Linked DNA regions of Homo sapiens: region 2 is linked to region 1. The links come from fine-mapping of genetic effects on gene expression. A gene starts in region 1. The other region holds a variant in brackets. All regions are shown on one strand. Distances are between the middles of the regions.

Evidence for each region. PIP is the estimated chance that this variant, and not a neighbour inherited with it, causes the effect.
Region 2: its variant is the best candidate, but not a certain one, in a credible set for the expression of ARPC5 in T cells (TOPMed, PIP 0.68).

The regions. Positions count from the first base shown.
Region 1 is chr1:183,632,517-183,637,888 of GRCh38, forward strand. ARPC5 (actin related protein 2/3 complex subunit 5) reads right to left here and starts at 3,267. Exons shown (of 4, transcript NM_005717.4): 1 at 3,001-3,267; 2 at 566-638. The coding sequence starts at 3,143. It also overlaps a transcript of RGL1 not described here. RefSeq lists enhancers at 2,463-2,963, 2,961-3,240 and silencers at 2,551-2,769, 2,721-2,780, 2,861-2,910, 3,391-3,550.
Region 2 is chr1:183,612,740-183,618,111 of GRCh38, forward strand. No RefSeq gene overlaps it. Among named protein-coding and RNA genes, the nearest start is that of ARPC5, 20 kb to the right of the region's middle. The variant C/T (reference allele first, on the strand shown) is at 2,580.

The sequences.
Region 1 (5,372 bases):
TATAAACTTATTGCGAAGGAAAGCTCATGTACATTGCATATAGCTGAAAAAGCACGTTATAAAATTTCATTCTTAAAAAAACAAAAGGGAACTCTGTAACAATACAGCAAGGCCCCAAAGTAGTAACTGTTATCTCTGGGTGCTGGGACCACAAACCACTATCTTTTTAACCTTCTCATATGTCTGAGCTTTCTATAATAAGTATTTAGTATTTGTATGGTTTTAAAAAATCTTTAAAAAGCAATTACAATCTGTTTATTTTTGTAAAGGTTTAACTTATTTTTCAAACCTTTGCTCAAATTCAGCCTGAGTGGTCTCCTCTAAAAACACACACAAATGATTTCACTATCGTTTGAACTTACTGTATCTTACCATGCAGCATTATCATAACTACATTATAGGGCTATTTTTTCACGTGAAATTTTTACCTATCAAACTACATTATAAACTCTTCTATGTCAAAGATAGCAAACAGTTAAAATATTGATTTTTTTTTGCAACTGCAGAGGATTTTACTAAGAATAAGATATCAGCAGAGATCACTGTGTTGTAGTCTGCGACTCACCTTCACTGCCTGACTCTTGGTGTTGATAGGGGGGTTCTTCAGAGCTGCCTGTAGGGCAGCTGTCATGTTTCCTGTGATGGAAGTTAAGGGTGTAACAGCAAAGGATGGCCCCCAGGAAAGCATTATAACCACTGGTTCTTATGACTTGATTTACATATAAAAAGAAAATTACTTTGGTCACTATGTTCAATACTGGAAATTCAATGTGTTGGTTTCCAGGATGTTAATCAAAGGCAAAATATCAAAAGCAAAATAGAACATTAGACTTTTTTTTAATAAAGCAAAGACTGTTTCACCCTTGGTTCTAACTATCAAGTGAACACCTTGATAGTCTTTCATTTCCCAGTGAGATACATATGCAAACATTACCTAGAGTGGTGTTAAAGAAATCCTAAAATATATATCAGAATTATTAGTCCCCCAAATGAAATAACCTATTATCAACCAAAATATGTCTTTTCCTGTGATTCTAATTGAAAAAATAAAGACCAAACTTTTGCTAGAACCATATTCTGTATTATCTGAAATGCTGGTAGAACATGCTGGCAGATTAGCAATCTGAATGATACACATTAGCAATCTCTCAATATTGATGAAAAGAGGCATCACAGAAGATGTAATAATTCATATGTCCCTTAGGTGGCAGCTTAATTTTTTGCTTTAGATATTTTCTCTCATATTTCACAAAGGTTATTCAAACTGTGTTAGACCATACCTATTAAATTCAGGCTCTCTTTGAAAGCACTAGTGAGTTAGCAAGCATGAGAAACAGAAGGCCAATCAGACTGTCAGAATGTACAAACATTCCCCTAAAAGGAAAACCACAGAGTTCACTTGTTCCTCCAACTCTAGTACCCCACCACTAGGGCTGTCTTTCCTGGCTGTATGTAACGGTAAGAAGAGACAGTATCTTTATATTTTAAGATGAACTGATCAAAAAGCAGATCCACTGATATGGATACAGCAGTACCATTTAAAAGTCACCACAAATTACCTAAAATACACTGGGGTTTCATAAAACACCATCTATCCATCACAAATAATGTTTTTAGGAAGCATGTTCACCATTTATTTTCTAAAGAAAAAGTTCTTACACAAAATCTCTGGTTGACAAGCTGTTATTTTCAAGGCTGCAGGGATTTCTAGAGAAGCATGCCTGATGTAGATTAGCTCATTTTTTATAACTCCAAGCACTTAAGTATTTAAATAATGCAAAAGAGCAACAGCTAATTAATTGTGAAAGTTGTGGCAAAGCACTATCTATATATTGATAAATGTCTAATGCTCTATTTAGGTGCCTTTAAAAAAGGATATTGTTGCCATTAAATATTTTCACTCTCATATTTCCCCACTATAACAGGACATTGTTGAGAGTCTTCCTTATGAATACACCCAAGAATTAGAAATGCATACAAATTCAGTGTCTGAGATTTTCTAAAACTACAGCTTCGGTTTTTTTGCAACATTTACATTTTTCTAAAAAAGATGTAATGCAAATGCGAAGCCAAAGTTATGAATATTCAAATATGCAAAAACAGAAACCGGGAACTGACTGCCATATTTTAACTAAAATGGAAACAATTTTAGGATTACAAAAATGATTCTGCTTTATACGAATGACTCATCTTCTATCTTATTCATTGGGGTTTATTTTAAATATTTCCAAGGATTCTCCACACGCATTCCCCGTTGTTTTTTCTATTGTCCTTTTCTTAGCAGGTAAAAGGCTCCAAGCTTCCTTCTAGGAGTTTTGTATTTTTTGTATTCATTCCCCTCCCCCAGTTAACAAATTCTGTACAATGTATATTTTGCCAAATCCCCTTCTTCTTCTTCTTTTTTTTTTTTTTTTAAAAAGGCCAATGGGCTGAAAGCACAGGGACCCTCAATTTTCGAACAGTCCCATCTCCCCCCGCCCCCCGGTAAGGAATAAACTACCTTAACGCTACCAATAACAAAAACACAACAAAAAACAAAACCACTAAGGAAAGATGCAGGTTCCCCACAATCAGAAATTTCTGGAGCTAATGTGACCCCAGGAAATCAGAGTTCTAGGAAGAAAAACTAAGGCGCTCGGCACCAGCCTTCCCCACCAGCCGGGGCCGCCTTCCCCAGCGCCGCGAGGGCGCGGCCGGCGGGACCAGTTCCCGAGGCAGGCAGGCACTCGGGTGCAACCTGAGGAATCTGGGGGCGTGGAAGGCGCGCGGGGGAGGGCAGGCTTCCAAGAGTGGGACCCTCGCGTCTCCTGCCGACTGGGTAGGAAACGGGGGCTTCCCCCTTGCCCTCTCAGAGCGGGCGATCCCAAAGAGACAGGTTAAGCCGCAGGTTGAGAGGGCAGCTCCGCGCCGGTGCCCCGCGGATCCTGCAGGCTCCCGGGTCCCAGGAGAAGGGCGGGCTGGGCTGGGCTGGGGTGGGGAGGGCGGTGAATGCAAGGATATTGCCGCAGGCAGGAGTCCACCTCGCCCTCGTCGGGCCCGGCCTGGCCGTCGCCCCCATCTTCTTCGTCCACGAACTTGTTCTCGTCATATTCATCCACGTCCACCTTCCGGAAGCGGGCCGACGACACTGTGTTCTTCGACATCCCAATCCCGACCAGCGGCAAAGGCCTCTTCTTGGCGCTGCCTCTACCTCAGCAAGCCCAGCCCAGCAACCCACTACCCGGCGCCTGATTCACTTCCCTCTTCCGCTCTGAGGCGTCGCCGACTGCCGCGGCTCGGACCGTTCTGGGCCTGCGCGCTAGCCCCGTTTCTTCCTCCTCAGGTTCGCGCTCCCTTGGCGCCTCCCACGCTGCCCCTGCTCTTCCACGGAGAGCGCGCGCGAGGGAAGGAGCGCGCAGGACACAGCGCGCAGGCGCGGGCTCTCCGCAGGCAAGGGGCGGGGCTGGGCGAAGGAGGCGGGGGCGAGAGGGAGGGCCAAAAGCTGGACCGCGGGCAGAGGTAAGAAGCGATTGGTCGTCCGATTGCGTCACGTGATTCTCGGTGGGGGGGTTCCCATAGAAACGCTTTTCTGCGGTCCAGTCTAGGGGGTCTCAGATTGGCGGGGATGGGCAGCAGCGGCAGGTGGCCTTGGCTTTTGCTGCAGCCGTCAACGACCTATCATCGGGGTCCTGCGTAAGGTCCGGCTGGCTGGGACTTGGCTGTGGGTGGGATGGACTGGCTGCCGGACCGAGTGCCCTGCAGTTGGTAGGAGTATGAGGCAGAGTGATGCACACCCGGGCGCCCAGCATCGTTCTAATTGCCGGAGACATTGCCTCAGACTGTGCGCTGCTAGAGGCTGCGTTCCTGAGCAGGAAGCCCGTTTCCTGGGATTGGAACTACCCTTCTTGGCCAGCGGGAAGTCCCCAAGGACGGAGTCGAAAGGTCAAATCTTATCTGTCAGTGCTGTGTGACAGCATCGCAACGGGATCTGCAGAACCTGAACTCGGTATCAAATCTATTGGGAGGGAGGGGAACGTGTCCGGGCAGGCGCTGGGGTCGGGTGGCAAAACTGGGGTGAATTTGTAGAATTTGGGAAAGGGTCATTGACATCTTAAAATAGGTGGTCGTTTGGAGCAAGAATGCTCGAAAGGGGTGAGGGTAGGTTAGGCTCTCTAGTGCTGGGGGAAAACAAAATGTGGAAGGATTGGTGGAAACCAGACCTTTAAGATTTATATTATGATTTGAGATTTATATGATTCCATCTAGGCCAGATTTAAAAAAATATTTGACATCCCCATTTCTGGAATGTAGGAGATAAAGGCACTAAGACGAAGGAAATGGTAGTTGTGCTGTGTGTATTACACTGAAGAACAAATATTTGCAGGATAAAATTAATTTGGACATTTGGCTGGACACTGCTCGGTATGGGTCCAGTTTAGTTGGACCTCGAGCAGAAGACTGGCTGTTGCCCTGTTGTGTACCACAATCTTTGGTTTCCAGTGCTGTGTTGAAAAGAGCACTAGGCTTAGAATCAGAAAACTCAGGCTTAAGTGTTGACTCTTCCACTCATAATGTTTGAACGAGACATGTCACTTAAAATTCTGTCTCAGATTCCTCATCACTGAAATGGAGCTAATAATGTGCACTTTACAAGATTGTTCTTAGGATTATATATCACGAAAGTGTTTCCAAGCTCTAAAATTCTACATAAATGTAAAATGCATGTTGCTTGTACCATTGGTTTTGGGACTAGTCTTATAAATTTCTTAATGATATATGGTGTTTTATCTCCTTCCTAGAAGAGATGGAAAGATTCTGAAGGGCAGAAACAGTTTTTCTTTTGTATCTTCCTTCCATATGACAAAAAGCTAAGCATGCAGAAGGGACTCGATACATGCTTGATGAATGAATGAAATGTGAAAGACCGTACAGTTTGAGAATCATACTGAGAATAATAAATCAGAAGAGGGAGAGAGATCTCAAAATTAAATATTTGTTGGATATATACATGTAAATACATATGTCCAGTCTTCTTTAAGTTCAAAAAAATACATATATAATGTGTGTATATTTATCTATGCAGTATATTATATATAAATAGAGAGTGGGAGAGAGACCTCGAGAATGGAATACATCCCTTTTTCTTGGGAAGAAGCAATGTGGTGTTTTTCTGTTCCCAATTAAACCACTCTTCTATAAGTATATCATTTAGGTGATAGAAGTAACATTGTTTAAATTAACATTCAAGTTATGAACACACACTGGTAAAAATTCTCTTAGGAATGCCTTAAGACAGCAAAGGAAAAATTTTTACCTGTTGGCAATATTTATTTTAAAAAGCCATATACCAAAGTATAAAATCATTACTATGGTGAATGGCGTTATATAACTTA
Region 2 (5,372 bases), 20 kb before region 1:
CTTCTTATAAGACTCTATTTGCAGTCCTTCTTGAAGTGAAAAAAGTCTTGTTAATAATCAGACACCTAAATTCTAGTTGATCACCATAACATGTATTTTTTCTAGGCAATATACTTCTCTAAGTTAACCTCATTAAAATGGGGCAATAATACCTATATTCATTTATTCACCAAAAGCTGCCTAATACTTCAATAAATATAAGGGACCCCAATTATGCACAAGGTTTCATAAAGTGACCAAAGATAAATAATCCATGGACCCTAACCTAGCACAACCTATGTATGAAACACACATTTATTATTTTGTGTAATAAGAATCTCATTTCTGAGACCTTTTGGTCCTTACACTCCATCTACAGAGTTACAGTGAAAGTCACTATATTAGTAAAATGTGATCCAGACTAGGTCTCAGTTGACTGATCTAGAGGTTGAGTCTAGACTCAAGCTGGATCAATCAGAAGCCTTCCCTGGTGTCAGGCCTCTGAGCCCAAGCCAAGCCATCGCATCCCCTGTGACTTGCACATATACGCCCAGATGGCCTGAAGTAACTGAAGAATCACAAAATAAGTGAAAAGGCCCTGCCCCGCCTTAACTGATGACATTCCACCATTGTGATTTGTTCCTGCCCCACCTTAACTGAGTGATTAACCCTGTGAATTTCCTTCTCCTGGCTCAGAAGCTCCCCAACTGAGCACCTTGTGACCCCTGCCCCTGCCCACCAGAGAACAACCCCCTTTGACTGTAATTTTCCATTACCTTCCCAAATCCTATAAAACGGCCCCACCCTTATTTCCCTTCACTGACTCTCTTTTTGGACTCAGCCCACCTGCACCCAGGTGAAATAAACAGCTTTATTGCTCACACAAAGCCTGTTTGGTGGTCTCTTCACACAGACACGTGTGAAATTTGGTGCCGTGACTCGGATCGGGGGACCTCCCTTGGGAGATCAATCCCCCGTCCTCCTGCTCTTTGCTCCATGAGAAAGATCCACCTACGACCTCAGGTCCTCAGACCGACCAGCCCAAGAAACATCTCACCAATTTCAAATCCGGTAAGCGGCCTCTTTTTACTCTCTTCTCCAACCTCCCTCACTATCCCTCAACCTCTTTCTCCTTTCAATCTTGGCGCCACACTTCAATCTCTCCCTTCTCTTAATTTCAATTCCTTTCATTTTCCAGTAGAGACAAAGGAGACATGTTTTATCCGTAGACCCAAAACTCCGGCGCCAGTCACGGACTGGGAAGGCAGCCTTCCCTTGGTGTTTAATCATTGCAGGCACACCTCTCTGATCATTCACCCATGTTTCAAAGGTGTCAGACCACGCAGGGACACCTGCCTTGGTCCTTCACCCTTAGCGGCAAGTCCCGCTTTTCTGAGGAAGGGGCAAGTACCCCAACCCCTTCTTTCCTTGTCTCTATCCCTTCTCTGCTTTTCTGGGGAAGGGGCAAGTACCCCAACCCCTTCTGTCCTTGTCTCTACCCCTTCTCTGCTTTTCTGGGGAAGGGGCAAGTACCCCAACCCCTTCTGTCCTTGTCTCTATCCCTTCTCTGCTTTTCTGGGGAAGGGGCAAGTTCCCCAACCCCTTCTGTCCTTGTCTCTACCCCTTCTCTGCTTTTCTGGGGAAGGGGCAAGTACCCCAACCCCTTCTCTCATTGTCTCTACCCCTTCTCTGCTTTTCTGGGGAAGGGGCAAGTACCCCAACCCCTTCTGTCCTTGTCTCTACCCCTTCTCTGCTTTTCTGGGGGAGGGGCAAGTACCCCAACCTCTTCTGTCCTTGTCTCTACCCCTTCTCTGCTTTTCTGGGGAAGGGGCAAGTTCCCCAACCCCTTCTGTCCTTGTCTCTACCCCTTCTCTGCTTTTCTGGGGAAGGGGCAAGTACCCCAACCCCTTCTCTCCTTGTCTCTACCCCTTCTCTGCTTTTCTGGGAGAGGGGCAAGTTCCCCTCAACCCCTTCTCCTTCACCCTTAGCAACAAGTCCCACTTTTCTAGGGGGCAAGAACCCCCAATCCCTTATTTCCACACCCCAACCTCTTATCTCTGTGCCCCAATCCCTTATTTCCGTGACCCGACCCCCTTCCCACTTTTCGGGAGGGCAAGAACCCCCGAACCCCTTCCCTCCATGTTTCTACGCTCTCTTTCCTCTGGGTTTGTCTCCTTCACTATGGGCAACCTTCCACCCTCCATTCCTCCTTCTTCTCTCCCTTAGCCTGTGTTCTCAAAACTTAAAACCTCTTCAACTCACACCTGACCTAAAACCTAAATGCCTTATTTTCTTCTGCTATGCCGCTTGACCCCAATACAAACTCGACAGTAGTTCCAAATAACCAGAAAATGGCACTTTGAATTTTTCCATCTTGCAAGATCTAAATAATTCTTGTTGTAAAATAGGCAAATGGTCTGAGGTGCCTGACGTCCAGGCATTCTTTTACACATCAGTCCCTTCCTAGTCTCTGTGCCCAGTGCAACTCGTCCCAAATCTTCCTTCTTTCCCTCCCGCCTGTCCCCTCAGTACCAACCCCAAGCATCGCTGAGTCTTTCTAATCTTCCTTTTCTACAGACCCATCTGACCTCTCCCTTCCT[C/T]CCCAGGCTGCTCCTCTCCAGGCCGAGCTAGGTCCCAATTCTTCCTCAGCCTCTGCTCCTCCACCCTATAATCTTTTTGTCACCTCCCCTCCTCACACCTGGTCTGGCTTACAGTTTCGTTCCGTGACTAGCCCTCCCCCACCTGCCCAGCAATTTACTCTTAAAAAGGTGGCTGGAGCCAAAGGCATAGTCAAGGTTAATGCTCCTTTTTCTTTATCCCAAATCAGAAGTGTTTAGGCTCTTTTTCATCAAATATAAAAATCCAGCCCAGTTCATGGCTCCTTTGGCAGCAACCCTGAGATGCTTTACAGCCCTAGACCCTAAAAGGTCTAAAGGCCGTCTTATTCTCAATATACATTTTATTACCCAATCTGCTCCCGACATTAAATAAAACTCCAAAAATTGGAATCTGGCCCTCAAACCCCAAAACAGGACTTAATTAACCTCACCTTCAAGGTGTACAATAACAGAAAAAAGTTGCAATTCCTTGCCTCCACTGTGAGACAAACCCCAGCCACATCTCCAGCACACAAGAACTTCCAAACGCCTGAACCGCAGCAGCCAGGCCTTCCTCCAGAACCTCCTCCCCCAGGAGCTTGCTACACGTGCCGGAAATCTGGCCACTGGGCCAAGGAATGCCCTCAGCCCGGGATTCCTCCTAAGCCACGTCCCATCTGTGTAGGACCCCACTGAAAATCGGACTGTTCAACTCACCTGGCAGCCACTCCCAGAGCCCCTGGAACTCTGGCCCAAGGCTCTCTGACTGACTCCTTCCCAGATCTTCTCGGCTTAGCGGCTGAAGACTGATACTGCCCGATCGCCTCAGAAGCCCCCTAGACCATCACGGATGCCGAGCTTCAGGTAACTCTCACAATGGAAGGTAAGCCCGTCCCCTTCTTAATCAATACAGAGGCTACCCGCTCCACATTACATTCTTTTCAAGGGCCTGTTTCCCTTGCCTCCATAACTGTTGTGGGTATTGACAGCCAGGCTTCTAAACCTCTTAAAACTCCCCAACTCTGGTGCCAACTTAGACAATACTCTTTTAAGCACTCCTTTTTAGTTATCCCCACCTGCCCAGTTCCCTTATTAGGCTGAGACACCTTAACTAAATTATCTGCTTCCCTGACTATTCCTGGACTACAGCTATATCTCATTGCCGCCCTTCTTCCCAATCCAAAGCCTCCTTTGCGTCCTCCTCTTGTATCCCCCCACCTTAACCCACAAGTATAAGATACCTCTACTCCCTCCTTGGCGACTGATCATGCACCCCTTACCATCTCATTAAAACCTAATCACCCTTACCCCACTCGACACCAATATCCCATCCCGCAGCACGCTTTAAAAAGATTAAAGCCTGTTATCACTCGCCTGCTACAGCATGGCCTTTTAAAGCCTATAAACTCTCCTTACAATTCCCCCATTTTACCTGTCCTAAAACCAGACAAGCCTTACAAGTTAGTTCAGGATCTGCGCCTTATCAACCAAATTGTTTTGCCTATCCACCCCGTGGTGCCAAACCCATATACTCTCCTATCCTCAATACCTGCCTCTACAACCCATTATTCTGTTCTGGATCTCAAACATGCTTTCTTTACTATTCCTTTGCACCCTTAATCCCAGCCTCTCTTTGCTTTCACTTGGACTGACCCTGACACCCATCAAGCTCAGCAAATGACCCAGGCTGTACTGCCGCAAAGCTTCACAGACAGCCCCCATTACTTTAATCAAGCCCAAATTTCTTCCTCATCTGTTACTTATCTCGGCATAATTCTCATAATAACACACGTGCTCTCCCTGCCAATCGTATCCGACTGATCTCTCAAACCCCAGCACCTTCTACAAAACAACTCCTTTCCCTCCTAGGCATGGTTAGCGCGGTCAGAATTCTTACACAAGAGCCAGGACCACACCCTGTAGCCTTTCTGTCCAAACAACTTGACCTTACTGTTTTAGCCTAGCCCTCATGTCTGCGTGCAGCGGCTGCCACTGCTTTAATACTTTTAGAGGCTCTCAAAATCACAAACTATGCTCAACTAACTCTCTACAGTTCTCATAACTTCCAAAATCTATTTTCTTCCTCATACCTGACGCATATACTTTCTGCTCACCGGCTCCTTCAGCTGTACTCACTCTTTAAGTCCCACAATTACCATTCTTCCTGGCCTGGACTTCAATCTGGCCTCTCACATTATTCCTGATACCACACCTGACCCCCATGACTGTATCTCTCTGATCCACCTGATATTCACCCCATTTCCCCAAATTTCCTTCTTTCCTGTTCCTCACCCTGATCATGCTTGATTTATTAATGGCAGTTCCACCAGGCCTAATCGCCGCACACCAGCAAAGGCAGGTTATGCTATAGTACAAGCCACTAGCCCGCCTCTTAGAACCTCTCATTTCCTTTCCATCGTGGAAATCTATCCTCAAGGAAATAACTTCTCAGTGTTCCATCTGCTATTCTACTACTCCTCAGGGATTATTCAGGCCCCCTCCCTTCCCTACACATCAAGCTCGAGGATTTGCCCCCACCCAGGACTGGCAAATTAGCTTTACTCAACATGCCCGAGTCAAGAGACTAAAATACCTCTTAGTCTAAATAGACACTTTCACTGAATAAGTAAAGGCCTTTCCTACAGGGTCTGAGAAGGCCACCGCAGTCATTTCTTCCCTTCTGTCAGACATAATTCCTCAGTTTAGCCTTCCCACCTCTATACAGCCTGATAACAGACCAGCCTTTATTAGTCAAATCAGCCAAGCAGTTTTTCAGGCTCTTAGTATTCAGTGAAA